Homo sapiens: one gene and its partner. The protein of the gene in region 2 purifies or fractionates together with the protein of the main gene of each other region. This does not show direct contact. Each region holds a gene or a part of one and is shown on either strand. Other genes may lie near its edges.

What was found. Proteins that work in one complex are often made in the same cells at the same time.
Region 1: the proteins of LTN1 (region 2) and NEMF purify together in Homo sapiens (affinity purification with western blotting; 2 studies listed by BioGRID, with this or other methods). This does not show direct contact.

What each region holds. Positions count from the first base shown.
Region 1 is NC_000014.9:49,842,262-49,850,899, forward strand, and holds part of NEMF (ribosome quality control complex subunit NEMF), read right to left. Parts: intron 4,005-8,638; coding exon 3,879-4,004; intron 1-3,878. UniProt on the Homo sapiens protein: Key component of the ribosome quality control complex (RQC), a ribosome-associated complex that mediates the extraction of incompletely synthesized nascent chains from stalled ribosomes as well as their ubiquitin-mediated proteasomal degradation.
Region 2 is NC_000021.9:28,982,173-28,990,810, forward strand, and holds part of LTN1 (E3 ubiquitin-protein ligase listerin), read right to left. Parts: intron 4,763-8,638; coding exon 4,559-4,762; intron 4,066-4,558; coding exon 3,967-4,065; intron 2,751-3,966; coding exon 2,520-2,750; intron 197-2,519; coding exon 144-196; intron 1-143.

The DNA.
Region 1 (8,638 bases), on a different chromosome or scaffold from region 2:
AAACATAAATAATGTTAGGTAAAACATAGCAAAGACACACAAAAAAGTTATATCCTAGAAAATGGAAGGCATATGTAGGCTAAAATGAAATTACTTCTTAAAGATTTAGAATTAAAGACTTTTTAAAATTTAATATTGCTAGATAACCTTTTCAATAAAAAAGAAGGGGGAACATAATGAAAATAAAGCTAACGAAAGAATACCACCTTCCAAATTTATTACTGACAGTGAAGATCAGAGTTACTCTACAGGTATAATTAAAATACAAAGAAGCATCCATGAAAACAGTCAAAAATGCCTTACAACTGTTTACAAGATAGTCACAGAATACGGTGGGAGTAATCCCAAATTCATCTGAAATGACAGGTTGCAATGTAAGTGGCTTCAGTAAATGTAGCCACCATTTACGTTGGTTAGAGAGATAGATAACCAGAAATTACTAAGTGCTGAAAAACTAGTAGCAGGCCAGGCGCAGTGGCTCACGCCTGTAATCCCAGCACTTTGGGAGGCCAAGGTGGGCAGATTATCTGAGGTCAGGAGTTCAAGACCAGACTGGCCAACATGGTGAATCCCTGTTTTACTAAGAGTACAAAAACTAGCTGGGCGTGGTGGCAGGTGCCTGTAATCCCAGCTACTCGGGAGGCTAAGGCAGGAGAATCGCTTGAACCCGGGAGGCGGAGGTTGCAGTGAGCCAAGATCACACCACTGCACTCCAGCCTGGCGACAGGGTGAGACTTATTCTCAAAAAAAATTAAAAAATAAAAAAAAAGAAAGAGTAAAAACTCAGGTTAGAGTAGAAAAGGACATTTACTACACAAATAATCAGCAAAGGGCTCATAATCAGATTAGATAAAGAGCTCTAAGAGATCATATCAAATGTTGCTAAGGATGTGGAGCTAAGGGAATTTTCAACATCAATGAATCTCACAGACATTATATATTGAATAAAAGAGCCAGGCGTGGTGGCTCACCCCCGTAATCCCAACACCTTAGGAGGTTGAGATGGGAAGATTGCTTGAGCCAGGGGTCCAAGGTCAGCCTGGGCAACGAAGTGAGAGTCTGTCTCTACAAAAAATAAAAAAATTGGCCAGGCATGGTGGTGCACATCTGTGGTACCAGCTACATGAAAGGCTAAGGCAAGAGGGTCACTTGAGCCCAGGAGGCCGAGTTTGCAGTAAGCCCTGATCATGCCACTGAATTCCAGCCTGGCCAACAGAGCAAGACTCTATCTCAAAAAAATAAAAAATATTGCATAAAAGAAGGCAGACCCAATGTCATGCATTGCTTAACAATGGGGATACATTCTAAGAAATGCATTTAGGCAACTTCGATGTCGTGTGAACGTAATAGAGTATACTTACACAAACCTAGACGGTGTAGCCTAATACATCCACCAAAGATATGATATAACCTATTGCTCCTAGGCTAGGAATCTGTATAGCATGTTACTGAATACTGTAGTCAACTGTAATACAATAGCAAGTATTTGTGTATCTAAGTACATCTAAATATAGAAAAAGTACAGTAAAAATATGGTATTACAACAACAGTTCCAGGCCGGGCGCAGTGGCTCATGCCTGTGATCCCAGCATTTTGGGAGGCCAAGGCGAGCAGATCACCTGAGGTCAGGAGTTTGAGAACAGTCTGGCCAATATGGTGAAACCCCATCTCTACTAAAAATACAAAAATTAGCTGGGCATGGTAGTACATGCCAGTAATACCAGCTACTCAGGAGGCTGAGGCACTAGGATTGCTTGAACCCGGGAGGCAGAGGTTGCAGTGAGCTGAGATCACACCCTTGCACTGCAGCCTGGGCAACAAAGTGAGACTCTGTATCAAAAAAAAAAAACCAAAACAAAACAAAAAAAAAACCGCAGTCCCCAGCCTTTGGCACCAGGGACCAGTTTCATGGAAGACAATTTTTCCATGGATGGGGGGTGCAGGGGTATGGTTTCCGGATGAAACTGTTCCACCTCAGATCATCAGGCATTAGATTCTCGCAAGAAGCATGCAACCTAGATCCCTTGCATGCACAGTTCACAATAGGGTTCACGCTCCTATAAGAATCTAATGCCACCACTGATCTGACAGGAGGCAGAGCTCAGGTGAGTAATGCTCACTCGCATACTGCTCACCTCCTGCCGTGTGGCCTGGTTCCACAGACCAGTTCCAGTCTGCGGCACAGGGGTTGAAGATCCCTGGTATAAAAGATTAAAAATGGAACACCTGTATAGGGCACTTACCATGAATGGAGCATGCAGGACTGAAAACTGCTCTGGGTGAGTGACAGTGAGTAAATGTGAAGGCCTGGGACATTACTGCATACTACTGTAGACTTGATAAATACTGCACACTTGGGCTACACTAAATTTGTTTTTTATTTTTTAATTTTTAAAAAAATTATGCTTACCTCAGACCAGATTAAATTTATGTATTTATTTATTTATATACATACACACGCACGCGCACGCGCGCGCACACACACACACACACACACACACACATATATTTTTTTTTTCCTTTTTGAGACTGAATCTCACTCTGTCACCTGAGCTGGAGTACAATGGCATGATCTCAGCTCACTGCAACCACTGCCTCCCAGGTTCAAGTGATTCTCCTGCCTCAGCCTCCCGAGTAGCTGGGACTACAGGCACGCACCACCACACCAGGCTAATTTTTGTATTTTTAGTAGAGATGCAGTTTTGCCACATTGGGCAGGCTGGTCTCAAACTCCTGACCTCAGGTGATCCACTCGCCTTGGCCTCCCAAAGTGCTGGGATTACAGGTGTGAGCCACCACACCTGGCCCAGATTAAGTTAGTTAGTTAGTTAGTTAGTTAGTTTATTTTTGAGACAAAGTCTTGCTCCGTTGCCCAGGCTGGAGCACAGTGACACAATCTGAGCTCACTGGAACCTCTGCCTCCCAGGTTCAAGTGATTCTCCTGCCTCAGCCTCCCGAGTAGCTGGGATTATAGGTGCCCGCCACCACGCCCAGCTAATTTTTGTATTTTTTAATAGAGACGGGGTTTTGCCATGTTGGCCAGGCTGGTCTTGAACTCCTGACCCCAGGTGATCTGACCCCAGGTGATCCGCCCTCCTCGGCCTCCCAAAATGCTAGGATTACAGGTGTGAGCCACTGTGCCCGGCCTGAGTCATTGCGCTCAGCCAAATTTATTTTTAAGATGTTTTTCTTTCTTCAATAATAAATTAACCTTTGCTTCCTGGAACTTTTTTACTTTATAAACTTTAAACTTTTTAGCTTTTTGACTCTTGTAATAACACTTAGCTTAAAACACATATCGTACAGCTGTACAATACTTTCTTTCTTTAGATCCATATTCTCTAAGCTTTTTTTCCATTTTAAATTGTTTTGTTTTTACTTTTAATGTTTTTGTTAAAAACTAACACACAAACTCACACACCAGCCTAGGCCTACACAGAGTCAGGATCAAGATGTCACTAAGCAGTAAGAATTTATTAGATCCATTACAATGTTACAGGACCAACGTTTATATGCAGTCTGTTGTTGACTGAAACATCACTATACATACAGCGCATCAGTGCATGACCGTATTTGACTATTTTCTGGTTGCATATTAGTCCTGAAATGTCAAGTACCAAATAATTTACTTCTCAGATCTTCATCTCCTACATTCATAAGGCTATTCTAAATGGCTAAAGTCTGCCTAAACTCAGACCTACAGATAAAATGAAGGTTATTACTGGAAAATTTTATTTTATTTGTGTGGCACCCATTTCCTAGGGTAGTAACAACCTTTGACACAGAAAAAAAATGTTCCCCCACTCATGTTATATAGCACTATTACAAAATGATTAATAAGAAATTTTCCTTCACCATATCCCACAAATTTAACTTACCCTATCATAGAGCTCAATGATTAAATGGTAAGCAGCTTCATCACTTCCAAATTGAAAATCTACAATTCTATCCACACCAAGCTGTTTTGCACTGACTAATCTCCGACTCTTCAAATGTTTTCGGCACTAGCAAGAGAAAGAAAAAGGCATTCATTTAGTAAAAGTGAATTCCTAACCATTTGGTATTGGTTTATAAATAAGCTTCTTTTCATTATCATCAGGAATATTTAAAACGTTGTGAATAACAGTATAGTCATAAAGTAATAGATTGCAGATGATAATCAGAGGGAAAACATTTTATTATAAACACTAACTCTGAAACAGTGTTTTATTTGCATTTTTTTAAGACAGGGTCTCACTCTGTCACCCAAACTGGAGCCCAGTGGTGTGATCATGGCTCGCTGCAGCCTCGACTTCCCTGGCTCAGGTGATCCTCCTGCATCAGCCTCCTGAGGATTGGGACCACAGGCACATGCCACTATCCCCAGCTAATTTTTTCATTATTTGTAGAGACAGGGTCTCACTATGTTGCCCAGGCTAATCTCAAACTCCTGGGCACAAGCAATCCTCCTGCCTTGGCCTCCCAAAGTGCTGGGATTACAAGCGTAAGCTACTGAGCCAGGCTTTTATTTTCAATTTTTAAGTAGAGAATGATGGACCTATAGCAAAATTTGCTTTGTTGCTTTATACCACTGCTAAATTCCTTGTTGTGGTCCTAATGACCTCACTCATAAGCCACAACCTTTATTTATTTACTTTATTTTGAGAGAGAGTCTCGCTCTGTCGCCCAGACTGGAATGCAGTGGCACAGTCTCAGCTCACTGCAACCTCCGCCTCCCAGGTTCAAGTGATTCTCCTGCCTCAGCCTCCTGAGTAGCTGAAATTACAGGCGTGTGCCACCACACCCGGCTAATTTTTCTATTTTTAGTAGAGACGGGGTTTCACCATGTTGGTCAGGCTGGTCTCGAAGTTCTGACCTCGTGATCCGCCCACCTCAGCCTCCCAAAGTGCTGGGATTACAGGCATGAGCCACTGTGCCCAGCCAACCTTTACTTATTTATTTATTTATTTATTTATTTGGAGACGGAGTCTCACTTTGTCACCCAGGCTGGAGTACAGTAGCACAATCTTGGCTCACTGCAACTTCTGCCTCCCAGGTTCAAGCAATCCTCCTGCCTCACCCTCCCAAGAGTAGCTGGGACTACAGGCGCCCACTACCACGCCTGGCTAATTTTTTGTATTTTAGTAGAGACGGGGTTTCTCCACGTTGCCCAGGCTGGTCTCGAACTCCTGAGCTCAGGCAATCTGCCCACCTCGGCCTCCCAAAGTGTTAGGATTACAGGCGTGAGCCACCACACCCAGTCCCTTTATTTTTTTTAAGTCTCTTTGATGACACTTCTAAGTATGCCAAATTTCCCTTTTGTATGCTTCATTTATGTTCAAAATTAATTAATTGTTTCCACTAATCTTCTACTTCTAATACATATCAACTATGGACCATGAGCTTATGGCTTATGGTATCCTGTAAATAGTCCACCACCTTATATCCAGTTACCCCTACCAATTCTTTTTTTTTTTTTTTTTTTTTTTTTTTTCTTTAAGAGAGTCTTTGCCAGGAGCGGTGGCTCAGGCCTGTAATCCCAACACTTTGGGAGGCCGAGGTAGGTGGATCACTTGAGGTCAGGAGTTCAAGACCAGCCTGGCCAATATGGTGAAACCCCATCTCTACTAAAAATACAAAAATTAGCTGGGCGTGCTGGCGCATGCCTGTAATCCCAGCTACTCAGGAGGCTGAGGCAAAAGAATCGCTTGAACCCAAGAGGCGGAGGTTACAGTGAGCCGAGATGACACTACTGCAATCCAGCCTGGGCAACAGAGCAAGACTCTGTCTCAAAAAAAAAAAAAAAAAAGAAAGGGACAGAGTCTCTCTGTTGCCCAGGCAAGGCTCAAACTCCTGGACTCAAGCAATCTCCCACCTTAGCCTCCCAAGTAGCTAGGATTACAAGTGCCCTGCCACTGTGCCCAGCTTATTCCTACAAACTTTACTAATATAACCCAAAGAGAATTTTCCTGGTATCGTCTCTAAGCTTTTGATAACCTATTTCAATCCAATGTAATAACTCTCATTCTTTATTAAATCCCCTTCCTCCTATCCCTGGCCATAAGGTTCTTTTTCTTATTAACAATTAAAATAATATTAGTATATCAAATCCAAATACAATTTACTTGGCAATACCTACTCTTTTAGATTACATGTACCGTCTTTTTGTACAAATATTGAAGTATGACATGGACTGGTAACAAGACTACTCTGTAGCCTCTAAAATATCTTACAATTGTTTCTAATTTTTTAATATAAAAGACCCTTTAGTTAAGACCAATAAGAAAGAATGCTTTCTTCAAGACTCAAATACGGTCTGGGTATGGCAGCTCACGCCTGTAATCCCAGCACTCTGGGAGGCCGAGGCAGGCGGATCACAACGTCAGGAGTTCAAGACCAGCCTGGCCAACATGGTGAAACCCCATCTCTACTAAAAATACAAAAATTAGCCAGGCATGGTGGCGTGTGCCTGTAATCCCAGCTACTTGGGAGGCTGAGACACGAGAATCACTTGAACCCAGGAGACTGAAGTTGCAGTGAGCCAAGACTGCGCCACTGCCCTCCAGCCTGGTGACAGAGCAAGACTCCGTCTCAAAAAAAAAAAAAAAAAAAAAGACTTAAATACGAAACAAATTTTACAGAAGTTAATCTAAGACCACCTTCAAAAAAAAGACAAAAAATCCACTCCTTGACAAAGGTTGAAAAAAAACAACAATAAACACATAAATTCATTATTAAAATTAATGCTAACATTTTCATAACTAAGAAGAGTTCTTCTCCAGACCTTATAGCCCAAATTGACTGAAATTCGCATTTTATATACTCACATAGGCAGAATAACTTCCTAGGATAAACAATCTGCTCCTCCTTAACTCAGTAGTTTTAAGAATGACCTATACTGATTTGATTAAACAGTAACCTACATGTAGGGCTATCTTTAAATCCCTAGAGGAAAATCACAATCAGTTCTTCCAGAGTCCCTGAGTAATAATTTTATTCAAGAAAAATAAAGACAAAAGGCATCATTGAAAGGACAGAAGTTCACACAAAGGAATAGTAAAAAGGGGATTATTTATCATGGAGAGTACAGATGGACACATAGTACATATTTAAAGCTTGTTTCATTTCCCTATCAACAGCTTGGTGAAATCAACCTGCTGCTGTGTGCCACAAAGCTATAGCTGTCATCCCCAAATGTGAATACTGGAACAACCACTGTGATTTATCACATAATAGACATAACTCTGCCTGTGCCATGCAACAGTAACAGCTCTTTGATTTATAAAGTGCTTAACATTGTCTGCTCCATTGAGGAAATCTTTCTATACATTTAGATTGACACGTACACCTAACCCATAGAATTCTAAGTATTTTTTAAAGTGACTGACCTATTAGTGTAGTCTGATTTGGAGATGTTTACACAATCCCAGTGTCCTATTTCATTGGCCTGTTACCTCATCCATAAAACTGAAATTGTATTTGTTCTTCACAGTCCACTGAGTTGCTAAACAACTTAAATGAAATACATATTATTCATCTGCCTTAAAAAGTGCTACACAACAGGTAGCATTATTATTGTCATTATTATTAAGGACAGGCCCCAAAAGAACTATTTTGGGTTACTATTAAATAAATTAAACTTTAATAATCTGAGAATTTTGTGAAAGCCCTTGTGATATGGAAACACTTACCTAATTTGTAATCCAAAACAGACTCTAAATTGCTGGGGGGTAAAGCTCTTCTCTGTAAAGCCTCTAATGAAATAACTCAATGCCATAACAGATACATTGCCAAAGTAAGGAGCGGAGCAGGAAGGAAATGAACATGTATGGAGTTCTAATATGTGTCAGGTATTGTTTCAGGTGCCTTTCTTTTTTTTTTAGATGGAGTCTCGCTCTGTCGCCCAGGCTGGAGTGAAACAGTGCGAACTCAGCTGACTGCAATCTCTATCTCCCAGGTTCAAGTGGTTCTCCTGCCCCATCCTCCCAAGTAGCTGGAATTACAGGTGTGTGCCACCACGCCTGGCTAGTAGAGACAGGGTTTCACCATGTTGGCTGGGCTGGCCTTGAACTTCTGACCTCAAGTGATCCACCTGCCTCAGCCTCCCAAAGTGTTGGAATTACAGGCATGAGCCACCGCACCTGGTCTGTTTTAGGTGTTTTATATATCATTTCAATTAATCCAATAATTTCATGAAGGAGGTACTATCCACATTTTACATTTAAAGAAACTAAATTCCAAGAGGTTAAGTAACTTTTCCAGGTTATAAAATTACTTTCTGACAAAGCTATTAATTCAAAGTTAAGTATATGTGACTCGAAAGTCTCGTGTACCACATGAATTTTCAATCTATATGTTACATCAATAAAAGAATGGGTAGCATGCCCACCCATGTAAAAATCTGTTTTAATAGTAAAAACAAAACAGAAAAATAAAAAGACTTAGTAACATATTAATGTCAGTGAGTATTCCAAAAAAAAAAAAATACTGACTGGGTACAGAGGAATACGACTCACAAAAGTGAGCTCTGGAAGATAAGACTAGGAAAAAAAGGTGGGGCAGGGAGGAGAAAGAACACAGAAAGCCAAGAATGTTAGGCTATAGAATATGGATTTAGAAATCAGGAAACCATAAAAGGTGAGGTAACTAATGAAAATTA
Region 2 (8,638 bases):
CGCCACTGCAATCCAGCCTGGGTGACAGAGTGAGACTCTGTCTCAAAAAAAAAACAAAAACAAAAAGTCACATTGAAATCATCTGATTACTTATGAGTGAAACAAATCCTTAACATGAGTTACAATGAAACAATACAACTTACTGCGGGTCACTGAGTGTATCAGGTGTTTCTTTTATAAGATGATCCTGCAGCACCTACAAAGGGGGGAAATACCAAAGCCTTTGGTTTTACTGAACTGTCAATGGTGAACAGACAGAGCCTAGTTAAATAAAATCCACTTTTTAAAAATCCCCATAAACATCATCTTACCTAAGAGCAGAATCAAATAGCAAAACTGAAAGGTTTGAATTTTACCAATTTTCCTTTTCCTATCAATTCCCAAGGTTAGCTGCTTTAGATACTTCTTCCCCACGCACCTATAAATACTCCTGACCACTTGTTCCTCCATTTCTCTTTCACACAGCAATGAAGTGAATGTGAATCTGGGAGATAAATTAGGCTCTGCTTTCCTCTCCCCTCTTTCTGTAAGCCTGCTTGCCCACAAAGAACACCATACATTGTGCTCTGCTCCATCACAGAGGAAGGTATGAGGTTTTCAAATATACGGAAGTCTGTTTCCTCCTGGGGTGCAGTGCAAGGGAGTCCACTGTTCCAGTAACTGCTTTATCAGCAATAACAATAACTAACACTTATTGAGCTTTTGCATGTGCCAGGTATTGCTTTGAGCACATTTTAGGCATTAACTAAATCAATCCTCAGAACTCCATGAAGTACAAGTTAATTCCTGCTTTATAGATTATGAAATGAAGGCACAGAAACTTGCCCAAGGTCACACACCTAGTTGCTAGCTGATGGCAGAGTGGGACTAGAACCAATGGTGTGACCCAGAGCCCATGTCTTATAGACAGTATGATATACTATCTATAATGCTGACATTTTGATTTTCATTTGCCTAACTCCTCTCTAATACATGGGTTTGGAACTGGAGACAGTTCAATGCCAACAGCTGTAATGAACTGTAACATAGCCAACTAAAGGGAAAATAAAATGGAAGAAATAACCCAATGTTCAATGATTAGTTATCCATCCATGACAAAGCCAAGAACAAATTTATTTTCTAAAGCCTATGAAGAGCCAAACTAGTTGTCTCAAAATCCATTTCCTAAAGCTCTTAGCGTCCAAACTCATGACACTTCACTCTTGTAACGTTTATAACTTGGCATTTTAAATCAACCAATGATTCTTATGCTACAGATGGGTTAGAAAACTCCATTTGAGCATATGATTAAAGCTACAAACCCTCTCTCTAGAAAAACACGCTTGGTACACCTGAGAAATGAAGAATGGAAGAACCTAAATGAGGTACTACAATCAAGTTATGTGTTGGGGAGTGCTGGGTGAAGAGATTAGATAGGGAAGCAGGGACCAGATCATGCAGAGCCTTGTATGTCAAGACAAGAAATTTGAACTTAAAAGTGTAATGGAGAGCCACAGGAAGGATGGCTAATTGAAAGGAGGAAGGAAAGCAGGGGGAGAGGGTCAGATGGAAATGTTTAAGTAGGGTTATACACAGGGTGTTGTGGAAACACAGGAGTACTAAATAAGGGAATAAATGCAAGCATAGATTTTTTAAAAAATTATCAATTCCCTCCTCACTTCTACTTCATCTACTTTTATTTCTCAATATAATTCTAACAACTTTGTTGTCTGGTTTTTCTAGTCCATATATTGGGAATAGAAAATGAAGGGGGAAGAAATGAGACACTACTAGAAACAGACACACTGAAAGCCACAAACAGGTATGGCTGGTAACTTTTTATGAGAAAGTTATGGCAAAAGTGTTAGCCCAGTGTGGAGAAACTTTATCTGAAAATGGGAGTATAAATTTGTTTGGCCTTTTGAAGGGCCATTTATCATTATAAAAAATTTTAATGTTCTTATTCTTTGGCCCAACATATGCTTACTAGAAGTTCTAGTAAGTATCACTCCCACAAGGGTATGAAGAGATCTACTCAAGAATGTTTACTGAAATAGCATTTGTTATGATAAAAATTGGAAAAAAATCCAAATGTATATTAATCTAAAAAGTTAAATAAACTACAGTACATCCATGTATAGTAATACCAGAGAGCCAATAAAAAGAAAAAGACACTAAGTTAGATCTGTATATATATATATATTGATATGGAAACACGAGAGAAAATAATTTTAGATTTATTTTTAGATATATTACTTGTTTAGATTACATAAAACATCTACTTTTTAAAAATATAATAAAGACTTCAAAATTAAAATGGAAAATTTAAATACTGTAGAAAGATCCAATCCAAAATGTTAATCTTGTTAAAGATCCAAAATGGTTATTTAACTAAACAGAATTTTAAAAAGGCAACCTTCAGTTGGAAATACTCTACTTACTCATTCCCCTACAATCCCAAGTAAAAGAGCTGTCATTATGCTTATAACCCTTAAATACTTAAAAAAAAAAAATAGATTCAGAATGATTCCAGAACTTACACTTGTAATTTCATCCTTACAAAATGCTATGGCTTCAGGTTGCTTGCTTGGAGGAAAAGCCGCTTCAAATGCATCTTTTGCTGCAAACGCAGCTGGTGTGTAAGTATCACACTGAGCCATTAGCCAATATCCCATTAAACTTTTTAAGTAGGGAGCCAACTGTTTCTTTACTTTAAGGATAAGTTTTTCAAAAGCTTGTTGTGTGGCTTCTCGGACGCGACGGTCATGATCCTATTAAAAATATAAATGTGATTTAAAATAGCTCTAGCCCATAAAAACAATCACAGACATTTCCGGATATGCTATAATGACCCATTACCAAGAATTCACCTATGTATTAAGCTAAACTGAAATCATTTTTTTTAAATCAATAATTTGGAGGTTTTTAAATCAGAAACTATGTAAAATAATTTATTAATTTTTCTTTCTCCCCTTCTCCCAATGAGATAGGATTGTATTCAAGACAGATTCAAAGTTGGGCCTTGAGGCCGAGCCTGGTGGCTCGTGCCTATAATCTCAGTACTTTCGGTGGCCGAGGCAGGCGGATTATTGGCGGTCAGGAGTTCAAGACCAGCCTGGCCAACATGGTGAAACCCCGTCTCTACTAAAAATACAAAAAATTAGCGGGGCATGGTGGCACACACCTGTAATCCCAGTTACTCAGGAGGCTAAGGCAGGAGAATCACTTGAACCCAGGAGACAAGGTTGCAGTGAACAGAGATCGCGCCACTGCACTCCAGCCTGGGTGACAGAATGAGACTCCGTCTCAATTAAAAAAAAAAAAAAAAAAGTTGGGTCTTCAATAATTAAGCAACTCACTCTCATTCTTCTGCAGCAAATATACAGGGAATAAAATCACTATCAAAATTTATTAAAACTGGAAAGCACCTGGGTAATTCTCCAGTAACAACCTAATTTCTGAAAACAGACTTCCTAAATGTTCTTCATAACCCAACACAATCCAATCTTTTTTTTTTTTTTTTTTAAAGACATTGTCTTGTTCTATTGTCCAGGCTGGAGTGCAGTGGTGCAATCTTGGCTCACTGCAACCTCCGCCCCACCGGGTTCAAGCGATTTTCCTGCCTCAGCCTCCCAAGTAGCTGGGATTACAGGCATCCATCACCACACCCGGCTAATTTTTGTATTTTTAGTAGAGACAGGGTTTCACCATGTTGGCCAGGCTGGTCTCAAACTCCTGACCTCAAGTGATCTGCCCACCTCAGCCTCCCAAAGTGCTGGGATTACAGGCATGAGCCACCATACCAGGCCCCAATCTCTTTTTTTATTTCCACGCTCTTCTCAAGTGTTAACAATTCAATCTGCATAACAATGCTGACATAACATTTAATAACCCTCACCAAAAATCAACATTATAAATTTGAGAGTCTCCATGACTCCAACCAAAAAATATACAACAGAAATAAACTAGCAAAGTTTTAATACTTACAAGTGAAATTTTGCAAAAAATTCTTGGCCAATATGGAAGAACTCCTTTCACAGTTTCTGTGTCTCTCTCTGTACACATGGTTCCAAATTCCTGCATAGCCTAAAAGTAAGTTATTAACATCATTAGGATTAACAACCATAATAACTGGCTATAGATTATTCTGTTCTGGAAGCTTTGTCTATTTTATGTAATAGGAGAATACACTATTTCTCTTTATGCCATATGAGACTAGTTTGAAGAGCTCTTTCACAGGCTACTACGGTAGAAACTCTTCAGTTGTTTTTTTAAAAATAAAACATCTACAAACAAAAAAACCTCATTTAAAGTTACAAGGTCAAAGTTACATTCCCTAATGGGAAAAACTATACAGCCAAAATTCCAAAGCACTTTAAAAAAGTTCACTGTAACAAACTAATTTACGACCTAGAAAATAAATATCAACTAAGTTTAAGACTCTGTGTCAGAAAAAAGTACAATTATAAAAGAACTTAGCAATAAATTGTTCATTTTTCTTTACATAAAACATGCTAATGACATTTTATTTTAACAAAGGGATTTTCTTGATAATTTTTATGAAAACAAGAAAACTTGCTTTTAATTTTGTGGTGACATCTTTCTTTGAAAGTTTCCGCAGCACCATTCGGAAATCAGAATCTACAAGACTGTCAATTTCTTCAGCTCCTTGAATAGCAGGAACATAGCCTAGGTCACTCTGAGATGTTCCAAAACCAATAAATCCAGGCACTGTTCCCTGTTCTTTGGCAAGGAGTTCTGCAGCTCGGCCACTGTTTGAAGGCTGATAAGAAAATTACGGAGAAAAAAGTCAGAGTCCAGGAAGGGTTCAAAACTTAACTTTATAATTCCTTGGCTATTCCCATGGTCAGAATGAGCTTTTATTTTATTTTCTTTTTTCCTAGCCTAAAATTTCATCTATTGCAAAGTTCCCCAAAGATTAATGGTTTTGTTGCCAAGAATCCATCAATACTGATCCTAGAAATTATTCTGTTTCTTAAACATTAGAATGTTTTGTAAACCATGGATACAATCCATTAGTGGCTCATGATATCAATATAATGGACCATGACAGAATTTTAAAGAAATTGATTAAAATTTTTAAAATCAGAATGTATCACATGCAGGAAAATTTTCATAAATGCTGTTATGAATTTTTTATTTCTAACTTTCATATAAATAGTATGTATACACATATGTATACTATGTAATGATGTAAAATGAACTCATAAATAGAACCCATCCTTTCATTCACCCATTAAATGAACAAATATTTATTAAACAATCACAATGGCCCAGGTCTAATGATAGCTGCCTCTAGACTGAGAGTTCCTTGAGAGTGGATACACTCATTTCCACACACTCCAAAGCCTAGCCTAACCTCTTTGGGCTAAAATTACATTATTATAGCCATAAAAATCAATACAACAGTCAATCTATAATACAGACTCCTTTGTTTTGAATCATAGTCAGTGGTTTCTTTGACTGATACACAATATAGTAGTCTTCTACTAAAAGGAGGTGAGTTGATACAGAGAAAGAAAATATTTGAACTGCTAAAAGAAATTAACTTATTGTTATCTAAACAGAAAATGCTTCAGTTTGACCACCAAGCTGACATCACAACCCATCTAAAGTCATCTATTTCTTATTTCTCTATAAGGATGTTTGCCAACGGTTATCCAAATGTGTGATTCAAATTGCTCATACCGGCCGGGCACAGTGGCTCACGCCTGTAATCTCAGCACTTTGGAAGGCCAAGGCGGGCAGATCACGAGGTCAGGAGTTCGAGACCAGCCTGGCCAACATGGTGAAACCCCATCTCTACCAAAGATACAAAAAATTAACTGGGCGTGGTGGCGCACGCCTGTAATCCCAGCTACTCGGGAGGCTGAGGCAAGAGAATCGCTTGAACCGGAAGGCAGAGGTTGCAATGAGCCAAGATTGTGCCATTGCACTCCAGCCTGGGTGACAGGGCGAGACTCTGTCTCAAAAAAAAAAAAAAACAACAAAAAAAAACAAATTGCTCATACCGGCCAGGCAAGGTGGCTCATGCCTGTAATCCCAACACTTTGGGAGGTCAAGGCGGGTGGATCACTTGAGCCCTGAAGTTCGAAACCAGCCTCGGCAACATGGCAAAACCCTGTCTCTACCAAAAACACAAAAATTAGCCAGGCGTGGTGGCATGTGCCTGTAATCCCACCTACTCAGGAGGGTGAGTCATGAGAATTGCTTGAACCTGGGAGGCTGAGGTTGCAGTGAGTCAAGATTGTGCTACTGCACTCCACCCAGGGCAACAGAGCGAGGCTCTGTCTCAAAAAAAAAAAAAAAATTCCTAATACCTAGCAAAAGTGTGTTTGGAAAATTCATCTGACAAGGAATAATCTGGCCTACTTCCTAAACTGAACTGAGTGAACAGGAAAGAAAATGATGGCCTGCATTACATTTGTTTTCAATCTGTAGCATTTAAGACTAATTCCAAAAAAGGTTCTCTATTTTTTTTTTTAAGTGAAAGTAAGTTTATTAAGAAAATAGGTCAGGCGCGGTGGTTCACGTCTGTAATCCCAGCACTTCGGGAGGCTGAGGAGGGAGATCACCTGAGATCAGGAGTTCAAGACCAGCCTGGCCAACATGGTGAAACGCCGTCTCTACTAAAAATACAAAATTAGCCAGGCATGGTGGCACATGCCTTTAATCCCAGCTACTTGGGAGGCTGAGGCAGGAGAATTGCTTGAACCCAGGGGGCAGAGATTGCAGTGAGTCGAGATTGCGCCATTGCACTCCAGCCTGGGCAAAAAGAGCGAAACTCCATTTCAAAAAAAAAAAAGAAAAGAATAAAAGAATGGCTACTCCATAGGCAAAGCAGCTGTTCTCTATTTTTTAAGTTTATTAAAATGAATTAATATTAATTATTCAATTCACCTTTCTCAATATTGGTACATGAATAAAGAGCCACAAAGGAAGTAGTTAGTGAATTATAATTCTTAAACTAAATATGATGACTTTAGGGTATCAGAATTTTCTACAATCTCATGTGTAAACGGTTTTATTATGAAACAGAATAAAAAACTAATTATTGCTAACATCTAAAGGAGTTGAGGCTGAAATAACAGAATTAGGAGTGATAACTAGGGGCAAAAGAGAAGGTATCAAATTTCCAGTCTCCAATTTAAAAGTAACAAGTTACTTTTAAATGCACTATCTTTTTTTAATGTCTACTTTAAATTTAAAATATAGTTACTCTTATGATCTTTGTATGTTAAGTGCTATACCCATAGTTCAATAAAAATTAAGAAACAATTCTATTTATGGCACTTATTTTTTTTTTTGTACTATGCCTACTTCTGTCTACACTCTTTCATGCCTAGCTTCTAGAGTTATTTGTGGTGGCAATCCTGAGTCTACAAAGACCAAACCAAGGAAGACTTACAAGACCTTTCACCATCTAACCTCAACTTTTCCCAGTCTTATCTCCTGCCACTCTTTCCTTCCCTTGCCCCACTTCCTTCTCCCTTCTTCAAATTATGCTGCCATCATTCATGCCCTAGTAGCAAACTGAATTCGAAGTTCTCTGAGGCAGGGCATGGTGGCTCACACCTGTAATCCCAGCACTTTAGGAGGCTGAGCGTATCTTTGGGCAGATCACTTCAGGCCAAGAGTTTGAGACCAGCCTAGCCAACATGGCAAAACCCTGTATCTATTAAAAATACAAAAAATTAGCCGGGTGTGATGGTGCATGCCTGTAATCCCAGCTACTCGAGAGGCTGAGGCAACAAAACTGCTTGAACCTGGGAGGTGGAGGTTGCAGTGACCCGAGACTCTGTCTCAAAAAAAAAAAAAAAGTTATCTATGTGATGGCCTTTCACAATTTGATCTTTATATAACCTTTTTTCTCTACCTGAAAACGCTTCCTTTCTTTTCACTGTCTGACAAACTCCTACTCATCTTTCAAACTCATGTTTGCAACACTTGCCTTCCTCCATTCTCTTCCATTCTCCCACATTCTTTCTTCTAATACCTGCATCATAATTCTTTAACATTTGCTTACATATGTGTCTGTATCATCAAACTAATAGTTCAAGAACAGCAGACATCTATTATCTCTGAATACCTGACATCCAGTATCAGAGTCTTCTATTGAAGACTTTGCCACATTAAAGTTAAAATCCCAACTCCACAACTTCCTGGCTACATGAGCTTAGGCAAGCTAATTTCTCTAAACCTCAGTTTCACCACATTTAAAATGAGATATGAGTAATTAATTCATTAGTTGGGTTGTTTTCATGATTAAGCATAAGTTTTTAAATCACCATAGTAATAACTGATTCCAGCAAGAATCAAAGGGTGCTCAAACCATTAGGTGAAAGTTTGTGGAAGAGCAGGACATTCACAGTTTCAAACTAACATATTATTTGTTATTGGCCAATGGAAAAATATAACTTTATAATGAACAACACCTTAACCAAGTAATTAAACAAATACCACCAATAAGGGGACAAACAGGTGCGAAGTGCCCCTGGTGTGTGATGCACTGAGAAAGACTCATCATCTATGAAGAATTCCTTCTAAAAATTGTTTAGCCTGAATCTAATCATAAGGAAAAAACTAGATGAATCTGAATTAATCAAACAAATGGCCCAGGCTCTTCCAAATTTTGTTA